2 separate regions of the Homo sapiens genome follow, and region 1 is linked to region 2. The links come from fine-mapping of genetic effects on gene expression. Tissue or cell type: breast. Region 2 holds a variant in brackets; the other region holds the start of a gene. All regions are shown on one strand. Distances are between the middles of the regions.

Region 1 (5,965 bases), 78 kb after region 2:
GGAAGCCTTGCAGCCACCTAACAGCAGGAAAGGCCATAGCCAGGTCCCCCCAGCTGCCTCCTGGGCTCCGACCCACCCACCGTAGCCACAGCCTATTTACACACGTGGCGTCAAAGCCACGGCCGTCAATCACTGCGTGTCGCTCCCAGCTGCAGACGCTGGACAAAAGGGCGACGGGGTGGCAGCCCCCAGCGAGGACGGATGGGCCATAGGGCTGCTCTCTGGGCATCTCTGAGCAAGACCCTCCGGCGCCACAGCAGAAATGGCCAGACGGGCCTGTACCCAAAAAGCCAGCGGCGACAGTGTTGGAGGAAAACAGGCCAGGAGAGCCGTCTCCTCCCCGCGGACCTCTGCCAAGACCTCCTCTGCTCCGACTGTGGCAGCGGCTGCTCCCTCCGCGCCCACCCTCGTCAGGGCACCCTCGCCTGGCCCCACTCCCCACCGGAGCCTGGGAAGCTGGGGTCTCCCAGAGCCAAGCCTGACCCCTGGGAGGGGGCGTCCCGGGCAGAGCCTGGGCCTGGTGTGGCCGCGAGGCCCTGCTCTCCGCGGGGTGGGAACTGGATGGCGGCAGGCTGTGGGGGAGGAAGACACACGTGCAGTGAAGGAGACTGTGGGCTCCAAGACTTGTCACCTCCCTGTCCACGGCCCCGCCCTGGCCACATGCACGGATTCCTGAACCCCTGAGAACCTCCTTCTAGAACTCTGCGTGAAAGGCGCGAGGCAGTGTGGAGGGGCAAAGGGGGACCCTCTGCCCCGCGAAGTGGCCCCTTCTCTTCCCCCGAGGCCCCTCTCCTCCTCCTCCTCCTCCTCCAAAGGAGAAATTAATTCATGAAAAATAATACTCCAGTCAGCATCGGGTGACCCAGGAAACCCTGCGTCAGCTACAGCATCAGCGCCCAGCCCAGCCTGAGTGTGAGCCCCTCCCCGGCCAGCCCCAGCCCAAGCCAGCGGACCCGCCCGCCAGCACCCGGTGTGGAGGAGAGACCGGGGTCTGCCCTCTGCACCCGAGCGGACAGCGAGCAGGTCCCCGCTCTACAGGAAGGGGAGCAGGGAGGTCAGGGGCAGCTCCTTCTCCCCGAGCAGCGTGTCCCGCTTGAGGCTGCTGCCCTTGTTCACCACCTTGATCCTGAGGGCCAGTTTCCGGACGCTGGCGGGCCCCAGGCCGTCGAAGAAGAAATCCTCGTTGAAGACGGGGCGGCGGCTGTTCTTCACGATGGTGCTGCGCTGCTTCTGCAGCTTGCCCGGCACCAGGCACAGGCCCACGCAGCAGTTGATGCTGCGGGCGTCGCACAGGCGGTCGTAGAGGCCCTCGGCGGCCAGCAGGTGCACCCGCAGGCGGGCCTGGCCGGCCTCGTACTCGGCCAGCAGCCGCACGCTGCCCCGAGGGCCCACGTGGACCGTGTGCTCCCCACGCGCCTGGCCCGACTCGGGGCCAGGTTCCGGGGGTGCCCGGCGGGTCAGGCGGCGCCGGCTCCCGGGGCTGGCGTCCGGGGTGCTGTCGTCCGCAGACAGGGAGCCGTGGCGGCCCACGGAGTGCCGGAGCTGGCTCACCTTGGCCTGGCTGTCCTGGGCGAAACCTTTGAGCAGAGACACGGAGCGGGACAGCAGAGGGGACCCGAAGGGGGAGGACTCGGCCGAGGACCCTGTGTCGCTCTCCCCGCCACTGAAGTAGCGGCCGGGGCTCATGAGGGCCCCGCCAGCCTCCCTGGGGCCCCCATCACCCCCGTTGGCCTTGGCAGCTGCCCGGCGGCGCCCGGCCCCTGGGGAGCCCACCTGGGCCAGAGCCCCGTGCTCACTGTGGAACAGAGACTCCTTGCGCCTCGTGTGGGGGCTCTCAGCCAGCATGGCGAAGCCGTAGGACGTCTGGGCCTTGGGCACCGAGGGCAGGGACATGGCACCCTGGGCCTGGGGGTCGGCGTCAGTGGCCTCCTCGGACAGCCAGTCCTCGGCACTCTCGATCTGGATCACGTGCCGGGTGGCTGCCTTCAGCAGGCTCTTGCTCTCGGCTGCCAGCTTGGCAGGCAGCCGGGGGCTCCGTGGGGTCTGGCGGGGGGCCGCAGAGGCCAGGTTCTGTTCCGACGTGGAGGGGCCCAGCGCGGCCTGTCCCTCGCCCTCCGCGGGGCCCGAGGGCAGCTTGGGGGGGATGAAAAAGTCGGGGATCTTGTCGGGCGTCAACACATTGCTGTACAGGGGCCCCTTGGAGGCCTTGTCCCCCGCCTCACTCCCCACGCCCCGGGCAGCACCGTTTTCCCCAGACCCCCGAAGCCGCTCCAAGAACCACATGTTGGTTTTTCTCATGGGGGCGGCAGGCAAGAGGCCCGGACAGGGGCTGCAGCGTCTGGGAAGAGAAGCAGGGGTCAGGAGCAGTGGGGGGCGGCTGGCAGAGGGCCCTGGGCACCTGCTCCCTGTGGGGCCTCCCGGCAGGGCCCTGCCGGCGGGGTGGGGGTGGAGGGGTCCCCTGGGGGCGTCCCGCCCAGGCGCGGCGGCCCAGGACAGGAGTGAGGCGGGTTCCCCCCACCTTTTTCCGGAGAGATCCCGCTTAACTTCCCAGCACCAAGCCCAGGGGCGTGGGGGCCGCGCTCTGACTCTCCGGGGAGCTCCCAGAGGAGACTGGCCCCTCGCCCGCCCCCACTCTGGTTTTGAGCATCTCAGCGCTCATTCCAAAGGGTTCCGCGCTCAGTCCCAGGGGAAGACACGGATGTGGGTGGACCCCCGGGGTGTCCCAGCTCCGCCCCCCCGGCTCCCACCCACCTGTGGCTCCTCCCTGGACCGGAGGGCCAGGCGTTCGGGGTGGGGGAAGGGAGGGGCGGTAGGTCTGGGGCCGAGAGAGCAGCGAGTCGACTCCCCGGTGTCCCCCCGCCCCCAGCCCTCCCCGACTCCGCTTGGGGTGGGGGGTGGGGTCCCGGCGGTCCCCGCAGACCGGGCGGGGTCCCCGGACTTACCTGCCCGGGGTGATGGCCCGAGGCCGGAGGTCTGTTCGCAGACACGCAGGGGTCTCGGCGCGCAGGCTCCCGGGGCTGGCGCGGGGGACGCGGCCGGAGCTTCGATGCGGGCGGCGGCGGCGGCGGCAGCGCAGTCGGACTCATTCACCCGCGGCGGGAAACCGCCCAGCCCCGCCGCCGCCGCCGCCGTATTCCTCCGAGTACGGCCGCCCGCGCCCGCGCCCGCGCCCCCGCCCCCGCGGGAAGGGGGTGGGGCCGTCTCCCCGCAGCCCCCGGAGGCTGGTGGCAGGGAGGAGCCTCGCCAGGGCCCGGGGGCTGACTGGGGGCCGGTGGGAGACAAGCAGGTGGTCACGGTTGGCTGACGGCCACCCCCGGCGCTCACGCCCGCAGATTCCGGGAAGTCGGACTCCCAAGCCCCTGCCTCCGTATACCGGAAGAGGGTCCCAGACCCCCTACTCGCTGCCGGCGAGGAGCTTTCCCGACTAACGACGACGAATTAAATGACGGCAACAGTAATAAATGCAGCTGGGTTTATGATGGAGCGTTTCCTCCCTGCCAGCCTCCCAGCGTCCTGGCGGGTCTCTGACTCTCACACAACCCAGTACGCAGGTCCTACTGCAATTCTCAATCTGTAGATGAGGAAGGTGGGGGGTTTCCTTCCAGAAACAAGGACCGAACAGCTAGGACAGCAGGTCTTACTAAATGGGCAACCTCTCAGCAGCCCTACAAGAAGCCTGGAAGGGGGGGGCTCCTTCATTTCATGGACAAACGTTTCCTGAGCACCCGCTTGATGCTGGACAGTGACCTGGCCACCGGGGACACAGCTGGGACGGAGGGAGGTGGCCCCAGCCCTGGTGATGCAGGGGCAGGATGCCCACAGAGCGTACAGGTGCAGCTTAGAACTGCAGGGGTGGTGACGCCCGGAACAGGAATACAGCAGGAAAGCGTGAGGGTCGGGGCGAAGAGAGAAGGCACATGCGTGTGATTCACGGATGGAGAAACCCATAGGGGGCAAGACCAGGTCCAAACCCAGGCTTCCTGGCAGTTCCTGAGACCACAGGGTCCCCCCCTCCTGAGGCCCCGACCCCCCTCCTGCCAGCTGCTTCGTGATCTGCCAGCCCCGGCCTTCACTGCTTCCTTCTCTCCCTCCCTCCCTGCCCTCCCCGCCTCAGTTTCCTCTTCTGGAACCGAGCTGAGCAGTTCCCAGCCTCCTCGTGCTTGGAGCCAGCAAGATAACATATCCCCAGGACCAACCCGGAGCCGGCGGACGCCTGGCGCTTTATTGAATTATTGATTGTCCAGGAGCCTCCTGCATTCTGGGAATGTCCCCAAGTCTGGATGTGGCCCAAGCTGGGAGGAGCGGCTGCTGCCACAGTGGTAGAAGAGGGGTCCAGGAGGGCGAGAGAGCTGGGCTGAGGCCTCCCCACTCTCCACGTACCCTTGCAATAAGGGGTTAGAGTCCTGCCGTCCAGAGGGGAAAGTGAAACCCGGAGGAGCTGTGACCCCATCTAAGCTTTGCTCACCCAGCAAACGTTGATGAGCCCTCATTTTTGTGCTGGGGCAACCGCGACGCAGCCCCGAAGTCTGACAAGGAGGCAGACACCGAGGAATTCTCCCCTTCACCGCCGCCGCCTCCAGGAAGCCTGGGCAGGCCCCACCACAGACTAGCAGGGCCCCCGAACCCCAGCTCCAGCTGCCATGCAGAATACCCTTGGGCTGCTGTCCACCACCCCTGCTGGGCCTGAGGCGGGAGGAGGGTCCTGGGGGTCTGTCCACTGCCCCTGCTGGGCCCGGATCCTGGGGATCTGTCCACCGCCCCTGCTGGGCACGGATCCTGGGGGTCTGTCCACCGTCACTGCTGGGCCCGGATCCTGGGGGTCTGTCCACCGCCCCTGCTGGGCCCGGATCCTGGGGGTCTGTCCACCGCCCCTGCTGGGCCCGGATCCTGGGGGTCTGTCCACCGCCCCTGCTGGGCCCGGATCCTGGGGGTCTGTCCACCGCCCCTGCTGGGCCCGGATCCTGGGGGTCTGTCCACCGCCCCTGCTGGGCCCGGATCCTGGGGGTCTGTCCACCGCCCCTGCTGGGCACGGATCCTGGGGGTCTGTCCACCGCCCCTGCTGGGCCCGGATCCTGGGGGTCTGTCCACCGCCCCTGCTGGGCCCGGATCCTGGGGGTCTGTCCACCGCCCCTGCTGGGCCCGGATCCTGGGGGTCTGTCCACCGTCTCTGCTGGGCCCGGATCCTGGGGGTCTGTCCACCGCCCCTGCTGGGCCCGGATCCTGGGGGTCTGTCCACCGTCTCTGCTGGGCCCGGATCCTGGGGGTCTGTCCACCGTCTCTGCTGGGCCCGAGCCGGGAGGAGGGTCCTGGAGGTCCTGTCCCTGTAGTGGCCCCAAGGCACAGGCCAGCCATGTCTCCAGTAAACATTTGCCAAACAAATGGGTGAATAGCATCGCCACGATGGCCCCGAAACAGTGCTCTTTCAGCAGGCCCGAGGAGAGGGGGCCTCAGGGGCCACAGAGCCACCCTCCTCCATTGCAGACAAGGACAGCAGGGCCTGGGGAGGGAAGCGGACAGCTTGGGTCCTAGGAAGGGGCAGTGACGGGTCTCCTGACATCAGGCCAGCCCCAGGTATTGGGGGTTCGCTCTCCGGCACCCCTGCCCAGCCCAGGTGGGGGCAGAGCCTCTCCTGCCAGCTGGGTTGGGGGATGAGGCACTGAGTTTACACTATGCCTGTCTCCATGCTAGGACACAAATCCAGAGCTGGTCAATCAGGGCTTGAATCCTGGTGCCAACCCTTCCCACTGTGTGACGCTGGACAAGCATCCAGACCTCTGTCTCTTCAGCAGCCCAGGGCACCACGGCTCTCGAGGGAGGGCTCAACAGATCACTATGTGCAAAGTGCCTACAGCACCCCACCATGTGTGCGAGGCAGGCGTCAGTCGCCCTCTCCCTCAGACGCTTCTGCAGGTCAGGAAGGGTCTCAACCAGGGGGGAGCTGGCCCAGACCTCAAAGTGCACCCCA
Region 2 (5,965 bases):
GCCAGGAGTTCGAGACCAGCCTGGGCAACATGGCGAAATCCCGTCTCCACTAAAAATACAAAAATTAGCTGTGCTTGGTGGCATCCACCTGTAGTCTCAGCTACTCAAGAGGCTGAAGCACGAGAATCACTTGTACTCGGGAGATGGAGGTTGCAGTGAGCCAAGATCACACCACTGCACTCCAGCCTGGGTGGCAGAGTGAGAATCTGTCTCAAAATAAAAAAAAAGAAGAAAACTATGTAAACGGATGCTTCATCAATATAATGGAGAAGCTGTCAATTCACACTCAGTCAAAAATGGGTAACCAGAGCAGCCCCCATCACGATCTGGAACAAGAGCACTGTGATTAACGAACACTGTTTTGATGCTCTGAGCCAATGTAATATGACAAGAAGTATAAATAAGGCACGTAATTCCTGGGAAGGAAGAGATGCGAACTATCAACATCATGCTCTCCAGTGCTGCTTTCAAATCCTTCTGTCCTCCCTTGTGTGAGCCTCTATTCCACAGAGGCTAGTCCTGTCTGCTCAGACTCCACGCTGATCCCTGTGGGTCACTTTCAGCTTCCAACTTCCGGAACACTCCCTCTCATTCTCTCAAGATGTTAGCACTGGCCTCCCCTCCACCCCAGCTCCTGCCCAGACTCAACCTGGGGGCTTCAAGTCCACATAGAAACCTCCCAGCCTAGTCCCAGCCCTTCTCCAGGTGGAATATCTACACTGAGTCCCCCTTTTGTTCTCTCACAGGACCCCGTGGAAAGAACAGATTCTGTATGTCCATTACCTTCAGGATTATGAAGGTGGGAAGGTTGACACAGTGGTCCAGAGGCCCTTGGGTTGCCTGAACCTCTCCATAGTAGCCCAAGGTGAAGACCCTTTCCTAAGAGCACTCAGCCGTGACTTCCATTTTTGGCTTCATTGAGGCTTGCACTGATAGTGCAGCATTGGCAGCCGGCAAGAGCCCAGTGCCCGTGGAAGCTGCAGCCAGTGCATCCCTGCCCACAAGTCACTGCTGTCACATTCCTCACAGACCAAAAGCAAACACCCCAGCTTCACTTCAGAAGATGCTGGACAGCCGGGCAGGATGGCTCATGCCTGTAATCCCAGCACTTTGGGAGGCTGAGGCAGGCGGATCACGAGATCAGGAGTTTGAGACCAGCCTAACTAACATGGAGAAACCCTGTCTCTACTAAAATACAAAAATTAGCTGGGGATGGTGGTGGGTTCCTGTAATCCCAGGGAGAATCGCTTGAACCTAGGAGGCAGAGGTTGCAGTGAGCCGACATTGTGCTACTGCACTCCAGCCTAGGTGACGAGAGCAATACTCCGTCTCAAAAAAAAAAAAAAAAAAAAAGAAGATGCTGGACAAAGTGAGCATTTTGTTAAGTCTCACCCTGAGCAGATGTTTCCATGTGCTGTGAGGGCGTGGGAAGCATGCAGAATGCACCTGCTGCATACCAAAGTGAGGTGGTTCCTTCAAGGAACCACATGCATGGAACGAGTGGTGAGACGAAGAGGCTGTTCCTGGTCGTTTCACCTGAAAGAATGCTGGCCAACTATAGCCACTCAGAAAGGCACCTGGCAGGCGCTGCCTTGTATGCAAGCCAGGGGGGCTGTTACTGCAAAGGAAACAGCTGACCATAACTGCTGCAATGGTAAAACTCAAGATTTTGAAAAACTTGGGTTTGACAACATGAACTTGCCGAATTTCTAATATTTAAAAAACTTACAGGCCAGGCACGGTGGCTCACGCCTGTAATCCCAGCACTTTGGAAGGCCGAGGCGGGCGGATCACGAGGTCAGGAGATTGAGACCATCCTGGCGAACATGATGAAACCCCGTCTCTACTAAAAAAAATACAAAAAATTAGCCAGGCAAGGTGGCAGGTGCCTGTAGTCCCAGTTACTCGGGAGGCTGAGGGAGGAGAATGGCATGAACCTGGGAGGCGGAGCTTGCAGTGAGCCAAGATCGCGCCACTGCACTCCAGCCTGGGCGACAGCGAGACCCTGTCTCAAAAAAAAGAAAAAAAAAAAAAAAAAACTTATGATAAGGCTGGTGGTGATATCAACTGTTACAGTCAACCCTAAGCCCCAACATGACTATATTTGGAGACGGGGCATTTACAGAGGTAATTAAGGTTCAAGGAGGCCGTGAGGGTGGGGCCCTGATCCAACAGGATTAGTGTCCTTTCAAGAAAAACACCAGAAGGCTCCCTCTTGTTCTCTATCCACCATGTGAGGACACAGCAAGCCAAGAAGAGAGCCGGCACCAGAACCCACTCTGCTGGACCTTGATCATGGACCTTTCTGCCTCTTGACCTGTGAGGTTCACTGATACGGTCTCAGATTCCACTCCACAACTACTCTCTACAAAACTATCACTTGATGGGTTTTGCTGTAGCATCAAAGAAGAATACCCACAATTATCCGAAAAGCTGTGAAATACTCCTACCTTTTTCAACCACAGATCTGGCTGAGGCTGTATTTTAACTTCAGCCATAAGAGCCTATCACAACAGATCAATGTCTCCCTTAAAAGACAGAAACTGACCAGGCGTGGCTCATGCCTGTAATCCAAGCATTTTGGGAGGCTGAGATGGCAGGATCAACTTGAGGTCAGGAGTTCGAGACCAGCCTGGCCAACATGGTAAAACCTCGTCTCTACTAAAAATACAAGTTAGCCAGGCATGGTGGTGGGCACCTGTAGTCCCAGCTACTCAGGAGGCTAAGGCACGAGAATCACTTGAACCCAAGAGGTAGAGGTTCCAGTGAGCCCAGATTGCACCACTGAACTCCAGTCTGGGCAACAGAGTGAGACTCTGTCCCCAGAAAAAAAAAAAAAAGACAGAAACTGGGTCAGGTACAGTGGCTCACACCTATACTCCCAACACTTTGGGAGACCTAGGTAGAAAAATTGCTTGAGGCCAACAGTTTGAGACCAACCCTAGCAACATAGCAAGAACTCCACAAAGAAATAAAATAAAAACGTTGGTGAGGTGTGGTGGCGTGCGACTATAGTCCCAGTTATTCAGGAGGCTGAGGCAGGAGCATCCCTTGAGCCCAGGAGTTCGAGGCTGCAGTAAACTATGATTGCACCACTGCACTCCAGCCTAGGCAAAAGTGAGATCCAGTCTCAAAAAAATAAATAAATGTTTTAAAGACAGAAGCTTGGCCAGGCGTGGTGGCTCATGCCTGTAATCCAGCACTTTGGGAGGCCGAGGTGGGCAGATCACAAGGTCAAGAGTTTGAGACCAGCCTGTCCAACATGATGAAACCCCGTCTCTGCTAAAAATACAAAAATTTGCCGGGCGTGGTGGCATGCACCTGTGGTCCCAGCTACTCGGGAGGCTGAGGTAGGAGAATCACTTGAGC[C/A]CAGGAGGCGGAGGATGCAGTGAGCCAAGATCACACCACTGCACTCCAGCCTGGGAAACAGAGCAAGACTCCATCTCAAAAAAATAAAAAGACAGAAGCTGGATTTTCATATTTGCTTCTACATTCAAAGAGATATGGAAAACTAAAAATTCAGTCTTCTAATTTTTTTTCTTTTGGGACAGTTCTTTTTATTTTCATAAAAATATTTATATTAACATGTCACTGATTTATTCAGCCTCCTGAGTAGCTAGGACTACAGACGTGCACCACCACGCCTGGCAATTTTCGTATTCTTTTTTTTTCTTGAGATGGAGTTTCACTGTGTCACTCAGGCTGGACTGCAGTGGCACATCTCAGCTCATTTTAAAATGAGTTAGCGAATAAGTATTTTTACATGTCAATTTTTTTTGTTTTTTTGAGACACAGTCTTGCTCTGTCCCCCAGGCTAGAGTGCAATGGCCTGATCTCGGCTCACTGCAACCTCCGCCTCCTGGGTTCAAGCGATTCTCCTGCCTCAGCCCTTTGAGTGCTGGGATTACAGGCGCCTGCTACCACGCCCGGCTAATTTTTGTATTTTTAGTAGAGACGGGGTTTCACCATGTTGGCCAGCCTGATCTAGAACTCCTGACCTCAGGTGATCCACCTGCCTCAGCCTCCCAAAGTGCTGGGATTACAAGCATGAGCCACCGCGCCCAACAATTTTTGTATTTTTAGTACAGACAGGGTTTCACTACGTTGGCCAGGCTAGGCTCAAACTCCTGACCTCATGATCCGCCTACCTCGGCCTCCCAAAGTGCTGGGATTACAGGCATGAGCCACTGCATCCGGCCAATTTACATGTCAGTTTTAACTTTTCATGTAATAAAAAAGCAATAGATAAAGCACATTAACAAAGCTCCTTGAAACTCTAATTTTTTTTAATTTTTTTTTTTGAGACAGGGTCTCACTCTGTCGCCCAGGCTGGAGTGCAATGGCGTGATCTCGGCTCACCGCAACCTCCGCCTCCCAGGTTCAAGGGATTCTCCTGCCTCAGCCTCCCGAGTAGCTGGGACTATAGACGTGCACCACCACGCCTGGCTAATTTTGTATTCTTTTTTTTCTTTTTTGGAGACGGAGTCTCGCTGTGTCACCCAGGCTGGAGTGCAGTGGCACGATCTCAGCTCACTGCAAGCTCCGTCTCCCGGGTTCACGTCATTCTCCCGCCTCAGCCTCCCGAGTAGCTGGGACTACAGTCACCCGCCACTATGCCCGGCTAATTTTGTTTTTGTATTTTTAGTAGAGACGGGGTTTCACCATGTTGGCCAGCCTGATCTAGAACTCCTGACCTCAGGTGATCCACCTGCCTCAGCCTCCCAAAGTGCTGGGATTACAAGCATGAGCCACCGCGCCCAACAATTTTTGTATTTTTAGTACAGACAGGGTTTCACTACGTTGGCCAGGCTAGGCTCAAACTCCTGACCTCATGATCCGCCTACCTCGGCCTCCCAAAGTGCTGGGATTACAGGCATGAGCCACTGCATCCGGCCAATTTACATGTCAGTTTTAACTTTTCATGTAATAAAAAAGCAATAGATAAAGCACATTAACAAAGCTCCTTGAAACTCTAATTTTTTTTAATTTTTTTTTTTGAGACAGGGTCTCACTCTGTCGCCCAGGCTGGAGTGCAATGGCGTGATCTCGGCTCACCGCAACCTCCGCCTCCCAGGTTCAAGGGATTCTCCTGCCTCAGCCTCCCGAGTAGCTGGGACTATAGACGTGCACCACCACGCCTGGCTAATTTTGTATTCTTTTTTTTCTTTTTTGGAGACGGAGTCTCGCTGTGTCACCCAGGCTGGAGTGCAGTGGCACGATCTCAGCTCACTGCAAGCTCCGTCTCCCGGGTTCACGTCATTCTCCCGCCTCAGCCTCCCGAGTAGCTGGGACTACAGTCACCCGCCACTATGCCCGGCTAATTTTGTTTTTGTATTTTTAGTAGAGACAGGGTTTCACCGTGTTAGCCAGGACGGTCTCGATCTCCTGACCTTGTGATCCGCGCACCTCGGCCTCCCAAAGTGCTGGGATTACAGGTGTGAGCCACCGCGCCCGACAATTTTGTATTCTTAGTAGAGATGGGGTTTCACCATGTTGGCCAAGCTGGTCTCGAACTCCTGATCTCAAGTGATCCACCCGCCTCAGCCTCCCAAAGTGCTGGGATTACAAGCGTGAGCCACTGCACCCAGCCTGAAACTCTCAATAATTTTTAAGAGTACAAAGCAGGTTCTGAGACCAGAAGATTTGAGAGCAGCTGGCTTAATCCTTGACCACCGTGCTGCTCAGAGAGCCCCATGAAAGACCTGGTCTCCACTGAATTTCAGCTACTAGGACAGCATCTGGCACTTTGCAAAAAGATGTACAATTTAGCACTTACCAATGTGGAATCTGAGCTGCACAAAACTCATGAGGCTTACCCCGGAGGGCTCCACCCAACACAGGGGCAGGATCACCTTGGCCAAGTACCTGGGAGATGAAGTCCTTCTCCAGCTCCTCCTTGGGCTTGTCTGGGCACCTCGAGGCCTCCTCGCACTCCCCCCTAACACTGTAGTTCTGTGACAGGATC

The links. PIP is the estimated chance that this variant, and not a neighbour inherited with it, causes the effect. A credible set is the group of variants that fine-mapping cannot tell apart.
Region 1: C2CD4C starts here. The variant in region 2 is the best candidate, but not a certain one, in a credible set for the expression of C2CD4C in breast (GTEx, PIP 0.53).

Annotation. Positions count from the first base shown.
Region 1 is chr19:406,064-412,028 of GRCh38, forward strand. C2CD4C (C2 calcium dependent domain containing 4C) reads right to left here and starts at 3,084. Exons shown (of 2, transcript NM_001136263.2): 1 at 2,943-3,084; 2 at 1-2,338. The coding sequence starts at 2,298. The coding sequence ends at 1,033. It overlaps LOC124904607 (proline-rich proteoglycan 2-like), which reads right to left. Exons shown (of 2, transcript XM_047439790.1): 2 at 3,459-5,497. The coding sequence starts at 5,393. The coding sequence ends at 4,230. RefSeq lists enhancers at 67-946, 947-1,827.
Region 2 is chr19:328,535-334,499 of GRCh38, forward strand. MIER2 (MIER family member 2) reads right to left here. Exons shown (of 14, transcript NM_017550.3): 3 at 5,866-5,965. Among named protein-coding and RNA genes, the nearest start is that of MIER2, 13 kb to the right of the region's middle. The variant C/A (reference allele first, on the strand shown) is at 3,370.